Linked DNA regions of Homo sapiens. The protein of the gene in region 1 purifies or fractionates together with the protein of each later gene. This does not show direct contact. Each region holds a gene or a part of one and is shown on either strand. Other genes may lie near its edges. The genes, in order: MAK and KATNIP.

What was found.
Region 2: the proteins of MAK (region 1) and KATNIP purify together in Homo sapiens (affinity purification with mass spectrometry; 3 studies listed by BioGRID and IntAct, with this or other methods). This does not show direct contact.

Annotation. Positions count from the first base shown.
Region 1 is NC_000006.12:10,797,932-10,808,821, forward strand, and holds part of MAK (serine/threonine-protein kinase MAK), read right to left. Parts: coding exon 10,879-10,890; intron 5,961-10,878; coding exon 5,789-5,960; intron 4,129-5,788; coding exon 3,961-4,128; intron 1-3,960. UniProt on the Homo sapiens protein: Essential for the regulation of ciliary length and required for the long-term survival of photoreceptors. Phosphorylates FZR1 in a cell cycle-dependent manner. Plays a role in the transcriptional coactivation of AR.
Region 2 is NC_000016.10:27,551,623-27,562,512, reverse strand, and holds part of KATNIP (katanin-interacting protein), read right to left. Parts: intron 8,900-10,890; exon of another isoform or gene 8,880-8,899; intron 1-8,879. UniProt on the Homo sapiens protein: May influence the stability of microtubules (MT), possibly through interaction with the MT-severing katanin complex.

The DNA.
Region 1 (10,890 bases):
ACACAAATATACATAATTTGAATACTTCAATGCCTAGCACACTGAAGGTACTCAAATTCTGAATTAAGTCACATTAAGTAATTAGTATGTCAATATTCCTAAATTAATGATGCATATTTTGGAGCTGGAAACTTTGAGGATGTGTTTTGTAATTTCAAGGCTTTATTTATAACAACTCTTCCCTTTTTTTTTTTTTTTTTTTTTGAGATGGAGTCTCGCTCTGTCACCCAGACTGGAGTGCAGTGGCACGATCTTGGCTCACTGCATCCGCCTCCTGGGTTCAAGCAATTCTCCTGCCTCAGCCTCCCGAGTAGCTGGGATTACAGGCACACGCCACCATGCCCAGCTAATTTTTGTATTTTTAATAGAGACAGGGTTTCACCATGTTGGTCAGGCCGGTCTCAAGCTCCTGACCTCGTGATCCGCCCACCTTGGCCTCTCAAAGTGCTAGGATTACAGGTATGAGCCACTGTGCCCGGCCAACTCTTCCCTTTTAAGATACTTTAAGATACCAGTTACTATCCTTCAAGAAGAGGGAAAACTTTAAAAATTAATAGCATTTATTTTTTCCTATTTACTTAAGGGAAGCAGTGATCATTGTAGAGAATGAGAAACGTATAGAGTTCTCAAGACAAAAATAAAAATTTAACACCCAGAGACAACCAAGACTAACATTTTTTATACTTTTCGGTATTTTTTTCTCATCATATAAAATATATTTTTCAAAAACAAAATCATATTATTTGTATAATAGTATTTTAGCATGAGATTTCTCCCAAATTATTTAAAAATTTTATTTTACAAATTCACTGTTAATGCTGGCAGTATATTCCAAATTAAAGATGCACATAACCTAAGTTTAGAAACATTATTTATTTATTTATTTATTTATTTATTTATTTATTTATTTATTTTTGAGACAGAGTCTCACTCTGTCACCCAGGCTGGAGTGCAGTGGCACGATCTTGGCTCATTGCAACCTCCGCCTCCTGGGTTCAAGCTATCCTTCTGCCTCAGCCTCCCGAGTAGCTGAGATTACAGGTGTGTGTCACCATGCCTAGCTAATTTTTTGTATTTTTAGTAGAGATGGGGTTCTGCCACGTTGGCCAGGCTGATCTCAAACTCCTGACCTCAAGTGATCCGCCTGCCTCGGAAAGTGCTGGGATTACAGGTGTGCGGCACTGCAGAGCCACCGCACATGGTTGGAAACATTTTGATTAACTTTCAATGTACAGTTTTCTATTGGAATTGAACATCTTTGAGCATAATTTCTGATTGTCTTCAAGGCTCTTTTTATATACTACAAAATTACTTTCTCTTACTAAGAGAGATAAATGAAAAACGGTATCTCATTTCTACTTGCATTTTATAATAGTAAACAAAGACTGAACATTTAAAAAATATTTTTTGTAATCTGTATTTCTTTTCCTGTGTTTCTTTTTCATGTCCCATTACTACTTTTCTTTTTAAAATACATTTGAAAAACTTATTATGTCTTTATTATGAAGGTAATGAATGTTTAGAAAAATTAGAAAATATGGGCCAGGTGTGGTGGCTCACGCCTATATTATTTCAGCACTTTGGGAGGCCAAGGCAGGAGAACTGCACGAGACCAGGGGTTTGAGACCAGTCAGGACAACATAGTAAGACCCCATCTTTAAAGAAACAAAACTTTCAAAAAATTTTAAAAAAGAAAAATTAGAAAATACACTTAAACGGCTGGGCACAGTGGTTCATGCCTGTAATCCCAGCACTTTGGGAGGCCAAGGCAGGCAGATCACCTGAGGTCAGGAGATCAACAGCAGCCTGGCCAACATGGTAAAACTCCGTCTCTGGCCAGGCACAGTGGCACATTCCTGTAATCCCAGAACTTAGGGAGGCCGAGGTGGGTGGATCACCTAAGGTCAGGAGTTCAAGATCAGCCTGACCAACAAGGTGAAACCCCATCTCTACTAAAAATACAAAAATTAGCCAGGTGTGGTGGCAGGCACCTGTAGTCCCAGCTACTAGGGAGGCTGAGACAGAAGAATTGCTTGTATCTGGGAGGCGGAGGGTGTAGTGAACCGAGATCACGCTACTGCACTCCAGCCTGGGCGATGGAGCGAGACTCCGTTTCAAAAACAAAAACAAAAACAAAAAAAAACTAAACAAAAAAACCCCTCTGGTCTCTACAAAAATACAAAAATAAGCCAAGCGTGGTGGCGGGCACCTGCAATCCCAGCAACTCGGGAGGCTGAGGCAGGAGAATCGCCTGAACCCAGGAGGCGGAGGTTGCAGTGAGTGGAGATCATGCCACTACACTCCAGCCTGGGCAACAGAAACTCCATCTCAAAAAAAAAAGAAAATACACATACACATTTCAGTATTTTTCTTGTGTTTCTGTAGGAGTATTATATTAAGAATTAAAAATAATTTTCTCTGTCTTATCTTTCCATTTTAAGATTTTTACATAGAGAAAAATTTTACTTTTTATGTAATCAAATTGTTTGAATCTTCCTTTTGTGGTTTCTTCTATTATTTTTATACCCGTGTTTTTTCACCTTGAGATCAAATACACATGTATGCTTTCCTTTTGTTTCTAACAGTTTAGGGTGCTTTTTTTTTTACACTTTGAAAATGTAATCCTGGTCGGGCGCGGTGGCTCACACCTGTAATCCCAGCACTTTGGGAGGCCAAGGAGGGCAGATCACCTGAGGTTGGGAGGTCGAGACCAGCCTCACCAACATGGAGAAACCCTGTCTCTACTAAAAATACAAAATTAGCCAGGCGTGGTGGCTCATGCCTGTAATCTCAGCTACTCGGGAGGCTGAGGGTGGGAGAATCACTTGAACCCAGGAGGCAGAGGTTGCGGTGAGCCGAGATCATGCCATTGCACTCCAGCCTGGGCAACAAGAGTGAAACTCCATCTCAACAACAACAACAAAATGTAACCCTTCTGTGAGTTGTAAAGTATGGTGAGCAGTAAGGACCTCAATTTATTTTTTTCCCTAAGAGCTAATGAATTTTCCCAGTATCACCCACTGAGCCGTCCTCCCCTCTTTGTGATGCCACGTTTGTTTACCTTGTGCTGACTCATATGTTCTGCAACATTCAGCTATTTGTCAATTCTTATGCCAGTACTTCCACTGTTACCATCATCAATTTAAAGATTACTTTAATATCTGATGGGGCAAGCTGTCCATCCCTATCACCGCTCTCTAATTCCTTATTCTTGTTTTAACATATCTTGACTATCCTTTCCCATTTGTTCTTCCAGATGACATTTAGAAAACATTTTCTCAAGATTAATTTTAAAAAAAGCAAAATAAATTTTTGTAATTTTCACATGGAATTTATATTTAAATGATGAGAATACAATAAAGTTTATTATTGCCTTTTTATTGAAGCCTTGCAGACAAAAACACTGGGTTTAAAGGCCCTAGACTTGGAATACATCTGTAGATATGTCAGGTGTAGTCACAAAGGAACAAAGCCTGGGTGCCACAATGCTGCCCTCTTGTGGCAGCCAGAGGCTGCACACTCCAGTCCCAGCAAGGGATGATACTGTTGTATAAAGTGAACCAGAATCCCACCCCTAAACTGTAAAGGCAGCATAGGAAAGTCTACTATGTGGAATGATTCATGAGATGCCTTTTTGCTTCCATGACAGATTCCTTCATAACTAGTCTGTCGCAGGTCTGAATTTTTATCATTGCAGATTGATTCCTTGTTGCAACCTCAGGGTTCTTCATTTGAACCACAAAACTCAGAAAATCATTGGTGTGGCTATTTCTGCATTTCTCCCAATGATATTATATGCCTAGAAATTAATTTATTACATACGCTGGATGCCTAGGACTTTGTGTTTAATTCTCTTAGTAAAATCCTGGTTGAGAATAGACCTGCCTTTGTAAATGAAAACATCCCTGATATTACAAAACCTAAACATTTTTAAAGGTCTAACAGGAAGACTCCTCTTACCTGGCTTGCTGTCGGTCGTTTCTTTGGATCCCAATTCAACATTTCGGTCATGAGCTGAATAGCTTCATTACTGGCATTGGGAATAAGAGTTTTTAAGTTTATAGGAACACACTGGGGAAAACGGAAGTTCATAGAGGATGCCAGCTGGTATCCTTCTGGCCAGTCACTCTGTTTCAGGAATATATAAGTGCAGGTGGGGAGGGCAAAACAAATTGTTTTTAGTAATCCATTTAAAAAACACAGCAGTAATATAAACATCATTTATGTTTGAACATTTTCATGTTGATCCATATAAACATGAAAATGAAATACCAGACCACGTCTATAATTTAGTGCTACGACAGTATAGAAAGAACATTAAGCTGAGAGTTAGGAAACAATGCGAAAAGCACTTTTATAGCTTTTTTTTGTTTGTTTTTTTGTGTTTTTTTTGAGACAGGATCTGGCTCTGTTATCCAGGTTGGAGTGCAGTGGAGCAATCATGGCTCACTACAGCCTCACCCTCCCGGGCTCAAAAGATCCTCCTACCTCAGACTCCTGAGTAGCTGGGACTACAGGTGCGCACCATCACACCTGGCTAATTTTTTTTTGTGGAGACGGGGTTTCACTATGTTGCCCAGGCTGGTCTTGAACTCCTGGGCTCAAGTGATCCTCCTGCCTGGGCTTCCCAAAGTGCTGGGACTACAGGCATGAGCCACCATGCCCGCCTTTATAAATTTTGCAATATTAAGCTCTTGTCTGGTTTTAGATCCTGATGGTGATGTTGCTGTGATGATACCTGGGTTAACTCTGAACAAATAAGGAAAAGTGCTTTACAAAGAGGCTGACTGTGAACAAAGATCCTTGTCGTGTATATTACCCATTGCATACAATGTTAAAAATGCACATATCTGGGAAATGACAATTACATTAAAGCTTTAATATCTACATTTACTTGTGTAATGTTAACTACAAGGCACTTACTAATTTAATTAGGATGTCATTATATACACACTTATAAAGCACATTTCAGAAAGAAAGGTGTAGATGAAATATAGTTAATTGAAAAGCACTCAGTTCAAGAAGTCAAATATCCACAGGGGAGATATAAAAAAGGAAACAAGAAACGGTTAAGAAAAAACAAGGTTCAAGACACCAGGGGTTAACAGGTGATGCCAATGGCCAGCCACAGAATGAGCAGGAAAGAGCTCAAGCAAGGCTGTCTGTACAGTGTCAGCTGGGCATCACCCCCAAGTTACACTCTAAACACACAGAATTTTTCCTGAAGTTCTTAAGGAAAGGCAAGCACCTGTTTTTCTTCAGCTGGTGGGATTCTGGCTTCTTGCAATCCTTAACCCACTCCGATTAAAAAAATAAGGATTACAGCCGGGCGTGGTGGCTCACACCAAGTAATCCCAGCACTTTGGGAGGCTGAGGTGGGCAGATCGCAGATCGCTTGAGCTCAAGAGTTCAAGACCAGCCTGGCCAACATGGTGAAATCTCCTCTCTACTAACAATAGAAAAATTGACCAGGCGTGGTGGTGCACACCTGTAATCCCAGCTACTTGGGAGGCTGAGGCATGAGAATTGCTTAAACCTGGGAGGTGGAGGTTGCAGTGAGCTGAGATTGAGCCACTGCACTCCAACCTGGGCAACAGAGCAAGACTCCATCTCAAAAAAAAAAAAAGAATTATAAGAAAATTAATCATTAAAGTATGAGCCTATTTCAAAATGAAAATATCAGATATCTAGGCAAAAGTTGTAAATAATCAAAATTATAAAATTAAAAGCAAAGTAGCAAGATAGAAATAATCAAAAGTTATAGCAACTTAGGGACAAGAGTACTTACTTTTTTGGGAGTCCCTAAAACTTGGCAAATTTTAAAGATTTCATCGACCTCACTTGTCCCTGGGAAAAGTGGCCTTAACATATAGAGTTCAGCCATGATACTTCCAACAGCCCACACATCAATGGGAGAACTATAAACTGAAGATCTCAGTAAAACTTCAGGGGCACGATACCTATGAAAATAGAGAACAAAAGAGGTAATTTTGATTGCAATTTCAAAGGTGGATGGGCAGTAGCATTCTACGCTGTGTGGTCATGCATTTCCATCAAGGAACAGGTATTCAGACCCTGTTCCATCTGTGTGTCAGGCATTTGTACAATGTTCTGGGGATAATAGGACACAACACATGTTCCCTGATCACAGACAATGAGTGGGGCTGGAGACAAATGTCTATGAAATGTCCATCAAGCCTAAGACAGGAACTCAACTGAATAGATATGGAAATAAGTGCCATCTGATATATTAAGAAAAAAAGTAGAAAAACTATGTTACAAAGCATTATATTCAGCATCTATTCACAAGGAAGCACAGAAAACAAAAGATGAACAGGATTATATCCTGAGTAGTGGAGTTTTTTTTTATCAGTTTGAAAGTACTGATATCCTCAACTGACTCCTCTTCTGTAGTCAACTATATTTATTGAGTGGAGTTTTGCTCTTGTTGCCCAGGCTGGAGTGCAATGGCGCGGTCCCGGCTCACTGCAACCTCCGCCTCTTGGGTTCAAGTGATTATCCTGCCTCAGCCTCCCGAGCAGCGGGGATTACAGGGGCACACCACCATGCCCAGCTAATTTTTGTATTTTTAGTAGAGACGGGGTTTCCCCATGTTGGCCAGGCTGGTCTCGAACTCCTGACCTCAGGTGATCAGCCTGCCTTAGCCTCCCGAAGTGCTGAGATTACAGGCATGAGCCACTGCACCCAGCCTAACAATATTTTTAATTGAGAAAAATACTCAATTTACAAGAGCAAAGTGAGCTGGTGAGTCCAACACAAAGTCTGCTAAATGGAAGACACTCTCAATTCTCTTTTTTTCCAACCAAAATGTGTAAATATTTCAGTCCAAATGTTTGGCATACTGTCTTTTTGCTTTCATTGAGAATACTGCAAGCCCTCAAATAAACTAGTTTTGTTCACTGTTGTTTTTGCTCAATGTTGTTTCATTGTAATGTTGATGAGAAAGAAAAAAAAAGAAAGGCATTTCTGGCTGGGCCAATGTGTGGGGTTTGCACATTCTCCCCAAGTCTACAAGTTTTCTCCAGGACTCCAGCTTCCTCCCATATCCTAGATATGTGCATGTCAGGTGAACTGGGGTGCCTGTGTGGCCCCAGGATGAGTGTGTGCATGTGTGTGTCGGGGGGGGGGTGGGGAGGGGGCGTGCTGCCATGGGAGGCTGTCCCGTCCATGGTTGGTGCTCACCTTGCACCCCCAGCTTCCAGGACACGCTGTTGCCACCTGTGACCCTGAACTAGAATAACTTGGCGAATAATTATCTTCCTTGTTTTTATTAATGTTTCTCAAATGTATGTATAGCTTACATGTATTTCAATGTTCAATATTAGTGTTTTGGTCACTATTTAGAAGTTTGGTGGCCAGGCACAGTGGCTCACACCTGTAATTGCAGCACTTTGGGAGACCAAGGCGGGTGAATCATGAGGTCAGGAGTTCGAGACCGGCCTGGCCAACATGGTGAAACCCCGTCTCTACTAAAAATACAAAAACTTAGCTGGGTGTAGTGGTGGGCGTCTGTAAGCTCAGCTACTCGAGAGGCTGAGGCAGGAGAATCACTTGAATCCGGGAGGCAGAGGTTGCAGTGAGCCGAGATCGTGCCACTGCACTACAGCCTGGGTGACAGGAAAAAAAAAAAAAAAAGAAGTTTGGTGATGTTTTTGTGACCAGAAACGTGCCATAAAATTGTTTACTTTAATTAGCCTATGGTCGAATTGGTTTCATCATATGTTGTTTCACTTAAAGTGAAACTTTCCAAGAACCTACTGATGATGTTAAGTGAGAACTTACTATACTTTGACGAATATTTTTACAAGCTTTATTGATATATAATTCACATAATATACAGTTGATCCATTTAAAGTGTACATCACACTGCTTTCTCCCAAGGTGCCTTCACGTGTCTTCCCTCTTCCATCTCTCTGTCTGCCTTCTTTTTATAAGGACATCAGTCTTACTGGATTAAGACCAGCCAGGCTGTGGTCTGACCTCATCTTAATCTGATTACATTTGCAAAGACCCTATTTCAAAATAAGGTCACATTCGCAGGTAACCAGGGCGGATCCCTCATGAAAGGCCTGGTGCTGTTCTCACGTAGTGAATGAGTTCTTTTTCAGGCAAGATGAAATTAGTTCCTGAGAGAGTGGGTTGCTCCACGGCAAGCTTCCTCCTCTTGTTTGTTCCCTTCTCGCACGTGCCCATTTCCCCTTTGACCTTCACCCCGCCATCTTTTCTTTTTTTTTTTTTTGAGACGGAGTTTTGCTCTTGTTGCCCAGGCTGGAGTGCAATGGCGCGATCTCGGGTCACTGCAACCTCCACCTCCCGGGTTCAAGTGATTCTCCTGCCTCAGCCTCCCAAGTTACAAGTATGTGCCACCATGCCTGGCTAATTTTTTTTGTTTTTGAGACAGAGTCTTGCTCTGTCACCCAGGCTGGAGTGCAGTGGCGCGATCTTCGCTCACTGCAAGCTCCGCCTCCCAGGTTAACGCCATTCTCCTGCCTCAGCCTCCCAAGTAGCTGGGACTAGCTGGGACTACAGGTGCCCGCCACCACACCCGTCTAATTTTTTTTTTTTTTTTTTTTTTTTTGTATATTTAGTAGAGACGGGGTTTCACTGTGTTAGCCAAAATGGTCTTGATTTCCTGACCTCGTGATCCACCTGCCTCGGATTCCCAAAGTGCTGGGATTACAGGCGTGAGCCACTGTGCCCGGCCTAATTTTTGTATTTTTAGTAGAGACTGGGTTTCACCACGTTGGCCAGGCTGGTCTCGAACTCCTGACCTCAGGTGATCCACCCGTCCTGGCCTCCCACAGTGCTGGGATTCAGGTGTGAGCCACCACGCCCGGCCTGACCTTCTCCACCATGTTTTGATGCAGCATAAAAACCCACATCAGAAGCCAAGCGGATGCCAGTGCCATGCTTCTTGTACAGCCTGCAGAACTGGAAGCCAAATAAACCTCCTTTCTTTACCAACTTCCCAGCCGCAGGTGTTCCTTTACAGCAACACAAAAAAACACACTAAGACACGGACTCCTTTCTTTCAGCCCCCACATCTGATTCATTAGAATCCCACATTTCTCACTACCTGCATGGCCAGCAGGTCCAAGTCACTATCATTTCTGGCCACTCTACAAACTCTGCCCTTGTTTCCTACGACTGCCCTCCTTATTCATTCTGCACTGTGCAGAATTCACGTGTGGCGTGCACCTGTCTCAAGGCTTTTACTCTGCCTAAAAAAAATCCTGCTGGCCCTGGCATCTCCATCAGGGCTACTCTCAGTCAGACCCTCCATGTAACATTCCTTTCTCTCCCCATCTCCCCCAACTCCCTGCCCCCTTTCCTATTTTATTTTTCTTTATAATAATGTATCAACATCTGATACACATATATTCCTTTTTTTTTTTTTTTTTTTTTTTTGAGAAAGAGTCTTGCTCTGTTGCCCAGGCTGGAGTTCAGTGGCGCAATCTCGGCTCACTGCAACCTCTGCCCCCAAGGTTCAAGTGATTCTCATGCCTCAGCCTCCCAAGTAACTGGCACCAAGGCGCGTGACACCACACCCGGCTAATTTTGTATTTTTAGTAGAAACGGGGTTTAGCCATGTTGGCCAGGCTGGTCTCGAACTCCTGGTCTCAAGTGATCCCCCACCTCGGCCTCCCAAAGTGCTGGGATTACAGGCGTGAGCCACCATGCCCAGCCTGATACACATATGTTCTTGTTTTCACTGGAGTATAATATTCACACAGGCAGAGGCATGTGTTGTAAGAGTAGAGCTTGATGAATTTTCACAAATACAACACATCCACAGACCCAGCACCCAGATCAAGAAAGACATGTTATCGGCCGGGCCCGGTGGCTCACGCCTGTAATCCCAGCACTATGCATAGGAGGCCAAGGTGGGAGGATCACCGGAGGTCAGGAATTTGAGACCAGCCTGGCTAACACGGTGAAACCACGTCTCTACTAAAAATACAAAAATTAGCTGGGCATGGTGATGGGTGCCTGTAATCCCAGCTACTCGGGAGGCTGAGGCAGGAGAATCACTTGAAACCGGGAGGCAGAGGTTGCAGTGAGCCGAGATCACGCCATTGCACTCCAGCCTGGGCGAGAGAGCGAAACTCCATCTCAAAAAAAAAAGAAAGACATGCTATCAGCACCCAGAAGGCCCCTTGTGCACTAGTCCAGGCACTACACACATCCCCACCCCATAGAACTGCTTGCTATCCTGACTTTCATGGCACAGATTAGTTTTCTCTTTTTTTGTACTTTGCATAAATGAAATCATATGGTATGTGCTCTTTTTCTCTTTGGGCTCTTGATCTCAACATTGTCTAAGATTCGTCCACATTGCTGCATGCAGTCATAGACCCTTCGTTCTCATTGTTGCAAAGCATTCCACTGGGTGAGTATACGATGCTACTGTTCATGGACGTTTGGGTGGCGTGCAGTAGAGAGGATTCATGTCTTCTGGTGAACACGTGTATGTCTTTCTGTTGGTGATCCATAATATTTTTAACTTGTTTATCTGTCTATTGGCTGTCATGTAAGCAGCATAAGGCAGAGATTTTTCTTTTCTTTTTTTATTTCACTGCTGTGTTCTCTGTGCCTAAAATGATGTTTGGCACATAGTAGGTGTTCAATAAATATTTGTTGAATGAATGAATGAGTGAATAAATGAAATTCTTTTTCCTTTTTTTTTCAGTGATCAGAATAGCAATAAACCAATCCTTCGCTTTCTTTAAAGAATATAAAATTCAATTCTGTGTTTTAAATATTCAATATGGAACTTCCAGAAATATGTAACAATCCATCGTAGGAAAATTTCACCATAGGCTTATGCCTCAGGAGGGCTGCATAACCCCTACTCACCATCTGGTAGAT
Region 2 (10,890 bases), on another chromosome or scaffold:
TGAGAAACGTTGGAAGTAGCTCATGAGATCTCCCAGAATCCTAAGGAAAGAGATGTGTTCCTTCTCCACATAGCTAATTTGTACTGAGAGTCTACCAAGCACCAGGCCCTGTTCTAAGGGTTTTAGATGGATGAATTCATTTGATTCTCCTAGCAGCCTTATGGGAAGGTCCTATTATTATTATCACCATTATTATTTTTTTGAGATAGGGTCTCACTCTGTCGGCCAGGCTGGAGTCAAAGTGGTGTGGTCATGGCTCACCATAATAACTTCAACCTTCTGGGCTTCAGTGATCCGCCCACCTCAGCCTCCCAAGGAGCTGGGACTACAGGCATGTGCCACCAAGCCCAGCTAATTTATAACATTTTTTGGTAAAGCCGGGGTCTGCCATATTGCCCAGGATGGTCTCAAACTCCTGAGTTCAAGCAGTCCTCCTGCATCAGTCTCCCAAAGTACAGGGATTACAGGCATGAGCCACTGCCCCTGGCTGACAACAGATTTCTTTATGAAACTGAAGAATATTCTTGGGTATGCAATGTGTATTTAGGTGTTGGAAACTGACACAAGCAGCATAATGAAATAAACTCTGGCCAGGACAGTCATTTACATTACCTGGCCCCTGCAGGCCTCTAAATGTGTGACCCCTGCAAGGGAACTTCACGGTTCTAAGATACTTCAGAGTCCCCAAAATGAGACCCTAGGCGACATCTGTCAAGTTCCTTCCAACTCTAACTTTTGTGACATTAGAGAGTTCATGAAATGTTTCTAAATAGTTTGGGACTCGTTACAGGGAAAACACACACACACATACACACACACCACACACTGCATTGCAGGTTCACTTAGAGTTTAGAAAAATGTGGTGGGCCCTGCAGGTAACCAGATATCTGTAGCGCTCTGACTTCCTGCCAGGCGCTACGTTTACCCATAACTTTCCTCTCCCCAAAGGACATGTTAAATCAGAGGGTCCACTGCTAAGGGTGGTCAAGGTAGCAGTGGGCTCTGAAGTGAAGTGGGAGCTGGGAGAGAAAGTGACTTCACTAGGAAACGAAATTGGGCCAGGACAGGAATGCTAATGGGAGAGCAGAGGAAGCAGCTGCGGGGAACAGGAAAGGAAGCTAGGAGCGGGAATAGTATGAGGACTGGGTTGTCTGGGGAAACCATATGTGTCCACTAGAGAAAAAGGACCAGGCCAGGCAAAGTGGCCCACGCCTGTAATCCCAACACTTTGGGAGGCCGATGCAGGTGGATTATCTAAGATCAGGAGTTCAAGACCGGCCTGACCAATATGGTGAAACCCCGTCCCTACTGAAAAAAAAAAAAAAATACAAAAATTAGACAGGCATGGTGGTGGGCGCCTGTAGTCCCAGCTACTTGGGAGGCTAAGACAGGAGAATTGTTTGAACCCAGGAGGCGGAGGTTGCAGTGAGCCAAGATCACACCACTGCACTCCAGCCTGGGTGACACAGCGAGACTCTGTCTTGAAAAAAAAGAAAAAAAAAAGACAAAAAGGATGCAGCCACGGTCCCTGGAAGCTTGGCCTGGAAGCTTGGCTACAAGGCCCTTTCCTTTGTCTACTTTATGGAGAATGTCCAGCAATTCACTAGGGAACAAATCCGTTAATCTCTTTCCTGGTTACAGTGTCAACCCAGCAAACACTCATGGGATCTGCCTGTGCCAGTCCTTGTGCCAGGTGCTGGGCATACAAAGGAAAGAAGTGAGTCTCTACCCTCAAAGAGGGAGAAAAGCATAGAGCTCGTCCCTGTGATACAACACAATGCCTGACTAGCTATGGGGTCCTGCCATGGGGGAGTAGCTAATTCTGCAGGTGGTGCTGGTCACTGCAATTTACAGTGTGGAAGTGACTTGAAAGAAGGGCACAGCTGGCAGGGAACACAGCACAGGCAAGGCAGCGAGGTGCGAAAGAAGACGGTGTACTCCAGAGATGGCCAACCTCCCCAAGTGTCTCGGGCTGGCATTGAAATCTCAGATGCCTGCAAAGGAGGCCAATATGATCAATGGAAGAAGTGAGCACCAGATGACAGGTAACACCAGCCAGAAGGGGTCATCAGCACATGTCCCAGGTCAAGGGGGTGGCCACTGTTCAGTGCTAGAGGACCAGAGCTACGTGACAAGAAAGTGCTGAGGGCCCAAAGCACCCTGTTTATCAAGAGACTGAGAAGTCCAGGTTCTTATGTGAAATTACCTTTTTTTTTTTTTTTTTTTTTTCTGAGACAGAGTCTCACTCTATAGCCCAGGCTGGACTGCAGTGGCGCGATCTCAGCTCACTGCAACCTCTGCCTCCCAGGTTCAAGCGATTCTCCTGCCTCAGCCTCCTGAATAGCTGGGATTACAGGCACCCGCCACCACGCCCGGCTAATTTTTGTATTTTTAGTGGAGACGGGGTTTCACCATGTTGGCCAGGCTAGTCTTGAACTCCTGACCTCGTGATCTGCCCGCCTCAGTCTCCCAAAGTGTTGGGATTGCAGGCGTGAGCCACCACACCTGGATTTTTTATTTATTTATTTTTTTTATACAGAGTCTCGCTCTGTCGCCCAGGCTGGTGTGCAGTGGCGCGATCTAGGCTCACTGCAACCTTTGCCTCCTGGATTCAAATGATTCTCCCACCTCAGTCTCCCAGGAAGCTGGGATTATAGGCAGGTGCCACCATGCCTGGCTAATTTCTGTATTTTTACTAGAGACGGGGTTTCACCATGTTGGCCAGGCTGTTCTCAAACTTCTGACCTCAAGTGATCCGCCTGCCTCGGCCTCCCAAAGTGCTGAGATTATAGGTATGAGCCACCATGACCTTACTATTTTTTTTTTTTTTTTGAGACAGGGTCTTGCTCTGTTGCCCAGGCTAGAGTGCAGTGGCATGATCACAGCTCACTGTAGTCTCAACCTCCTGGGCTAAGGTGATCCCACCTCAGCCTCCCGAGTAGCTGAAACCACAGGCATGTGTCAACATGCCCAAATAATTTTTAACAATTTTTTGTAGAGGTGGGGTCTCACCGTGTTGCCCAGGCTGATCTCAAACTCCTGGGCTCAACTGATCCTCCTGCCTCAGCCTCCCAAAGTGCTAGGACTACAGGCATGAGCCACCATGCCTGGCCTGAAATCACTATTTTTGAATATGGAAAAACATATTGATAGACACTGTACAGCGCAGTGTAAAACCTCTGGGTGTGAGAGCAGGTAGGCAAGTGTCTAAAAAGATGAGACTGGAGGGGAGCTAATTCCCCAGAGAAATTCTATACTTCAAGGTGATATGATCCATAGGGCAATTGTTAAAGCTGCAAAGCCCCATGGGACATCAGTAGTCACACTTTCTTACTTTTACATAAAGTGCTCTGCAAACAGTTTCAAGTTCTTCCTTGCAACCAACCACATTGCTCTGCATTAGCCTACTCCCATTTGGAAAGAGAGAAGCAGTCATGGGACCAGATGCTGAGGGAGCTGGGAATGTAGTCAAAACGGGTACCTTTCAAAATGTATATTATTCCATCAGCCCAGTGGCCAGTTCTTCCCCACAGACTCACTCTCCAGGTGTGAGAACCTGGCCACACACTGGCAGTAACAAGGCTGAAATGGGCCTTCCATAACATACTACCAAGTGTAGACCTTATTCGACTGAGTCCTGGCTCTGCTACCTACTAGGTGTGTGGTATAAAACAGACACAATCACAGTATCCCATTGAGCTGTCTCAGGAATCAAATCAGATCTGCCACGGCAACAGTCAGCAAACGTTTCCTGTACAGGCCCAGATAGTAAATATTTTTGGCCCGTGGGCCACATAAGTCTCTTTTACAACTACTCAACTCTGCAAGAAAACAGCCATGGACTATATGTATGTGAAAGGGTGCTGCTGCATTCCAATAAAACTTTATTTACAATAGCAGGCAGTGGGCCACACTGCTTTGGGAAAGGGGAAGACCTCTACAAATATTATCTTCTAAGGACTCCCATGTTGAAATGTAGTCATCTGTTTATGTCTGCTTTCTCACCATACTATGAAGTTTCTAAAGGCAGATAATATATTCCCTTTTTTTCAGATTAAAACAAAAAGAAACTGGGCATGGTGACTCATGCCTGTAATCCCAGCATTTTGGGAGGCCAAGGCAGGCAGATCACTTGAGGTCAGGAGTTCGAAACCAGCCTGGCCAACATATGAAACCCCATCCCTACTAAAAATACAAAAATTAGCCAGGTGTGGTGGCACACACCTGTAATCCCAGCTACTTAGGAGGCTGAGGCAGGAGAATCACTGGAACCCAGGAGGCAGAGGCTGTAGTGAGCTGAGATCGCACCACTGCACTCCAGCCTGGGTGAGAGAACAAGACTCTATCTAAAAACAAAAAAACAAACAAAAAGAATAAGTATAGTCCAGTATGGCATACAAGGAAGTCCACAGGAGTTTTCACAACTGTACAAGTTAATACTAAAGTAGAATTCTAAGTACAAATGCTGACAGGCCTAGGAGTGACAGACACAATGAGAGAAGCCAGTCATTAGACAGGCCCACCTCCCTCTTAAAGGGCAAAGTCTCCACTTAACTCGGGTGGTGGGACAATTGTTGCCATGCAGAATTCTGATTTGGTGTTAACAGACTTTATTGATATTTTCAAGAAAATACCACAATCAGGTATTTATAAGAAATCTGCTCATTTTTCAATGTTGACAACTAATTCAAAAATTTAAAAAACAAAACATTATGAGCCAAATAAACATGCATGTGGGCTGTTTCAGCCCACTTGTGCAAGCTCTGATATAAAGAATTCATTTCCAGCCAGGCATAGTGGCTCATGCCTGTAATCTTAGCAACTTGGGAGGCCAAGGTGGGAGGATCACTTGAGCTCAGGAGATGGAGACCAGCCTGGACAACATAGCAAGACCCCCATCTCCACAAAAAATAAAAAATTAGCTGGGCATGGTGGCACACACCTGTAGTCCCAGCTACTTGGACAGCTGACATGGGACGATCGCTTGAGCCAGGAGATGGACGCACCAGTGAGTTATCTCACCATTGCACTCCAGCCTGGGCAACAGAGCAAGACTCTGTCTCAAAAAAAAAAAAAAAAAAATCCACACCTGTAACCGTAGCACTTTAGGAGGCCAAGGGGTAGGGTTGGATCACCTAAGGTCAGGAGTTCGAGACCAGCCTGGGCAACATGGTGAAACCCCGTCTGTACTAAAAATGCAAAAATTAGTTGGGCGTGGTGGCATGTGCCTGTAATCCCAGCTACCCAGGAGGCTGAGGCAGCAGAATCACTGGAACTCGGGAGGCGGAGGATGCAGTAAGCCAAGATCGCGCCACTGTACTCCAGCCTGGGCTACAAAGTGAGACTCCACCTCAAAAAAAAAAAAAAAAATCAACTTCACAGAAAAATGTCAAGAATAGTACAATGAATTCCCATATCGCCTTCACCTGGATTCAATCTTACTCATTTTGGCATCTCTGAATTCCAATGCACGGAAGGCACTGAAATGTTGAATCATGGAATGAATCTCATAAGGAAAAATAAGCAAAACATTATGGGCCGACTTCCTATAAGTTAAAGTGACAGGAGGAACGAACTCTGAAAAAATCTGAGAGAAAAGAAACTAATCAGATAGAAGGATTGGAACAAGAAGAAAACAGAACAGACACAAAGAGTCTATGGGATGTATGTTTATTTCACCTGCTGAATGCTTGCTTTGTTTTATTGCATTTGATTGTTATTTTATTATTTTTTTTGCTGGGTTTAAGTAGTAAGAGAAACAGACAAATCACCAAGAAGCCAGGTAAATACCACACAAGGACAGGAGAGACCAGCTAAACCGATGGTGTACTCTCAGCAAAACCTTCCTAATTCAACCATCACCTGTTTGCAGTCTGGGATTATTTGGACAAGTGAGGCTAAATATCATCTTGGCATTATTAATTATTTGAGAAAGTTTGCTAAGCAAATGAACAGTATAAACAAGGGAAATGTTGAATATTTGCTCTAGGGGAGCAGTGAAAAGCAAATGAACAACTTCCAAATCCTTTCTAATTATATCAATGTGCTGAACTTTTGTCTAATTATTATGTTCCTTGAAAATGAAATAGAATTTTTTTTCCTAAACCATTTCATATTTTTAAAGTACTGGGGAAAATTCAACTTTAACAGAAAGGCGAACATTTTCATAGGCAGAAAACACACACTGCCAATGTACCTTCATGGAATAAAAAATGTCAAACATTGGATTTTCTCTTAAGCAAAGAGTGTGCTAATTACAAAAGTTATCATCTGCTAGAGAGCTTCATCAGCACGCTTCCCTCTTCTGTCAACTGTGTGGAATAAGTCTGCCTATTTGCAGATAATGATAACAACAGCTACTATATAGGAACTTTTTTTTTTTTTTTGAGACAGAGTCTCACTCACTGGCCCAGGCTAGAGTGCGGTGGTGCAATCTCAGCTCACTGCAACCTCCGCCTCCCAGGTTCAAGCAATTCTCTGCCTCAGCCTCCCGAGTATCTGGGATTACAGGCACCCGCCACCACACCTGGCTAATTTTTGTATTTTTAGTAGAGACAGGATTTCACCATCTTGGCCAGGCTGGTCTTGAACTCCTGACCTCGTGATCCACCCATCTCAGCCTCCCAAAGTCAGGCATGAGCCACCGCGCCTGGCTGTAGGAACTTTTTTTTTTTTTGAGACGGAGTTTCGCTCTTGTTGCCCAGGCTGGAGTGCAATGGCGCAATCTCGGCTCACCACAACCTCTGCCTCCCAGATTCAAGCGATTCTCCTGCCTCAGCCCCCCAAGTGGCTGGGATTACAGGCATGCACCATCACACCCAGCTAATTTTGCATTTTTTTAGTAGAGACAGGGTTTCTCCATGTTGGTCAGGCTGGTCTCGAACTTCTGATCTCAGGTGATCTGCCTGCCTCGGCCTTCCAAAGTACTGGGATTACAGGCGTGAGCCACCGCGCCCAGCCAGGAACATTTTTTTATATGCCAGACTTGATGCATTGTTTCATTGAAGCCACAAAACAAGGTAGGCTTCATTATCATGTCCATTTTACTGACAGGAAAACCAAGGCTCAGAGAGGTCAAAGTGTACAGCAGAGATTCAAATCCAGGGCTATCTGGCCCCCAAACCTAAGGACATTACACTGCATCACAGAAACAGATAGGACCTGCCCAAAGTCAAAATCAAAAGGCCAGGGAAAGGGTTGTGAAAAGCTATGGTGATTAAGACATGCCGAATAAACTAAATTACAGTCCAGTTTGGAGGGCATCTGCTAGACATTTAAGCTTTTGTGAACGTAGGAAGTAAACATCTTTCTAATAAGGCCAGGCTTGGCTTACCTAGTTAGTTAGAATCACAATAAGGTATGCTTCACTTTATCCAATAAATAGGTATGTGCCTATAAAATTATGTATAAATCAGGGCCAGGTGCGGTGGCTCATGGCTATAATCCCAGCACTTTGGGAGGCTGAGGCAGGTGGATAACCTGAGGTCAGGAGTTCGAGACCAGCCTGACCAACATGGTGAAACCCCATCTCTACTAACAAAAAACAAAAAAGTTAGCCAGGCGTGGTGGCGTGCACCTGTAATCCCAGCTACTCAGGAGGCTGAGGCAAGAGAATCGCTTGAACCTGGGAGGCAGAGGTTGCAGTGAGCCAAGATCACGCCACTGTACTACAGCCTGGGTGACAGGGCGAGACTCTGTCTCAAAAAAAAAAAAAAAAAAAAAAGTGTAAATCAAAGTTTAAAAAATCAGAACAGAAAATGGGATTCTTTGGAGGTCAAATATGACCCTAGGGTAAACACTTCTGAGAATAAATTTTTCCTTTTGGGGGCCAATCTGAAAATGAACATACCCCTCTACTAGGCTACAATAACGTCCTAAGACTGCAAGTACAGAGATGCTCATTAGAAGGCACAAAGCAGCCTTCCTGAAAATGGACTGTAGCAATGTTTCTCAAAGGTGCAGATCCTGGGAGAAGGAGGGGTCCACAAAGACAAAAGTATTTTAATCATAATTTGAAGAGTATTTCACTGTGTTGAATTTTTTTTCTTTTGAGACAGTCTCACTCTGTTGCCCAGGCTGCAATACAGTGGCATGATCTTGGCTCACTGCAACCTCTGCCTCCTGGGTTCAAGCGATTCTCTTGCCTCAGCCTCCCCCAAGTAGCTGGGACCACAGTTATGTGCCACCATGCCCAGCTAATTTTTGTATTTTTAGTAGAGACAGGGTTTCACCATGTTGGCCAGGCTAGTCTCAAACTCCCGACCTCAGGTGATCGCCCACCTTGGCCTCTCAAAGTGCTGGGATTACAGGCGTGAGCCACCCCATCTGGCTGTGTTGACATTTGTACTTATGACACAAAGCAATGGTGGGTAAAACTGCTTGCAGTCTGAATCAAGGCAATGTTACCACAATGTACTAGAAACCTTCCCTCCTTCCTTCCTCCCTCCCTTCTTCCATCCCTCCCTTCTTTCCTCCTTCCTTTCTCTCTCCTCTCCCTCCCTTCTTTCCTTCCTTCCTTTCTCTCTCCTCTCTCCCCCCACCCCACCCCCTGCTCTCTCTCTCTCTAGACAAGGTCTTTTTGCCCAGGCTGGAGTGCAGTGGCACAGTCATGGCTCACTGTAGCCTCAACCTCCTAAGCTCAACTGATCCTGAGTGGCTGGGACTACAGGCACGAGCCACTATACCTGTCTAATTTTTTACTTTTTACAGAGATGGGGTCTCACTAAGTTGCCCAGGCTGGTCTTGACCTCCTGGGCTCAAGTGATCCCCACACCTCAGTCTCCTTAGCAGCTAGAACCACAGGTGCATGCTACCATGCCTGACTATTATTTATTTATTTATTTATTTTATTTATTTATTTAGTAGAGATGGAGTCTCACTATGTTGACGAAGCTGGTCTTGAATTTCTGGGCTGAAGAGATCCTCTTGTCTTGGCCTCCCAAAGCGGTGGGACTATAGGCGTGAGCCACTGAACCCAACCATCAGGACATTCTTAAATAAAAATAATTGTTTGTTTGTTTTAAATGTGAGTACATGGCAGTAAATAAAATAATAGACAAATTTTGGTTATTCAGTCTTGGGAATTTGGCAGAAATTTTCTCAAATATGAAATAAGTGAGTCTGTCACTTCAAGGAAACAGCTGACAATATTTGCTGCCAATGTTAAAATTCAAGCTGTCAAGTGAAAACAAGTTGAAAACTTGTTTCCATTACCTTGAGTTTGATAGTTTCCTAATACTTAAACTCCTTTTTAAAATGAAATAGGTGGTGATATTAACAAATGTGATTTTTTAAATACCGTATAATGGCATCTGAAAGGTCAACGTTTAGATTTGCATAACTCACTGAACCAACATTTTCTAAACGACCAATGGCTGATGTTATAAAACCATATATGGGTAAAGCAGCCAATGAAAGGGCAAGATAGACCAATGGATTTTAATGTAACACAGTATAAAAGTTCACCTATAAGGCTTCAGATGACACACTGTGACTAACATTTAAGAAACTGCCACTTGTGGCCTGGCATGGTTCTTCATGCCTGTAATCCCAGCACTTTGGGAGGCCAAGGCGGGCGGATCACCTGAGGTTGGCAGTTTGAGACCAGCCTGACCAACATAGAGAAACCCCATCTCTACTAAAAGTACAAAATTAGCTGAGCGTGGTGGCACATGCCTGTAATCCCAGCTACTTGGGAGGCTGAGGCAGGAGAATCGCTTGAACCCGGGAGGCGGAGGTTGCGGTGAGCCGAGATCAGGCCATTGCACTCCAGCCTGGGCAACGACGGCAAAACTCCCGTCTCAAAAAAAAAAAAAAAAAAAAAAAACTGCCACTTGCAGGCCAGGCATGGTGGCTCACGTCTGTAATCCCAGCACTTTGGGAAATGGAGGCAGGCTGATCACCTGAGGTCAGGAGTTTGCGACCAGCTGGCCAACATGGGGAAACCCCATGTCTACTAAAAATAAAAAAAATTAGCTGGGCATGGTGGTTCACACCTGTGATCCCAGCTACTCGGGAGGTTGAGGCAGGAGAATCGCTTGAACCCAGCAGGCAGAGGTTGCAGTGAGCTGAGATCGTGCCACTGCACTCCAGCCTGGGCGACAGTGAGACTTTTTCTCAAAAAAAAAAAAAAAAAGAAAAAAGAAACTGGCATTTGCTAAATTTTGTATAGTATGAAAGGAGAGTGTCTACAGTTATCTGAAAAGGCAATTAAAATGTTTCTCTCTGCTCCAATTATATATTTGTATGAGGCCAAATTTTCTTCATACACACCAGCCAAAACAGCATAACAAAAAACAGTTTGAATCCTGAAGCAGAAATGAGAGTAGTTTTTTCTATTTCTATTGAATAAACTTGAAAAAACATAAAATAATGCTACTCTTCCTATTAATTTTTTGGAGGCAAATGTAATTGTTTTCCATTAAAAATATTATTTATGTTCAGAAGTAATGGGTTTATTGTTGTTGGAGTTTTTTTGAGACAGGGTCTAGCTATGTTGCCCAGGCTGGTCTTGAACTCCTGAGCTCAAGCAATCCACCCACTTCAGCCTCCCAAACTGCTGGGATCACAGGTGTGAGGCACTGCACATGGCCAATTATTATTATGATTATTATGAGCCACTGCACCTGGCCAATTATTATTATTATTATTGGGTTTTTTTGAGACAGAGTCTCGCCCTGTTGCCCAGGCTGGAGTGCAGTGGCAAGATCTCGGCTTCAAATGATTCTCCTGCCTCAGCCTTCCAAGTAGCTGGGATTACAGACATGTGTCACCACGTCCGGCTAAGTTTTAGTAGAGACAAGGTTTCACCATGTTGGCCAGGCTGGTCTCGAACTCCTGACCTCAAGTGATCCACCTGCCTTGGCCTTCCAGAGTGCTAGGATTACAGGC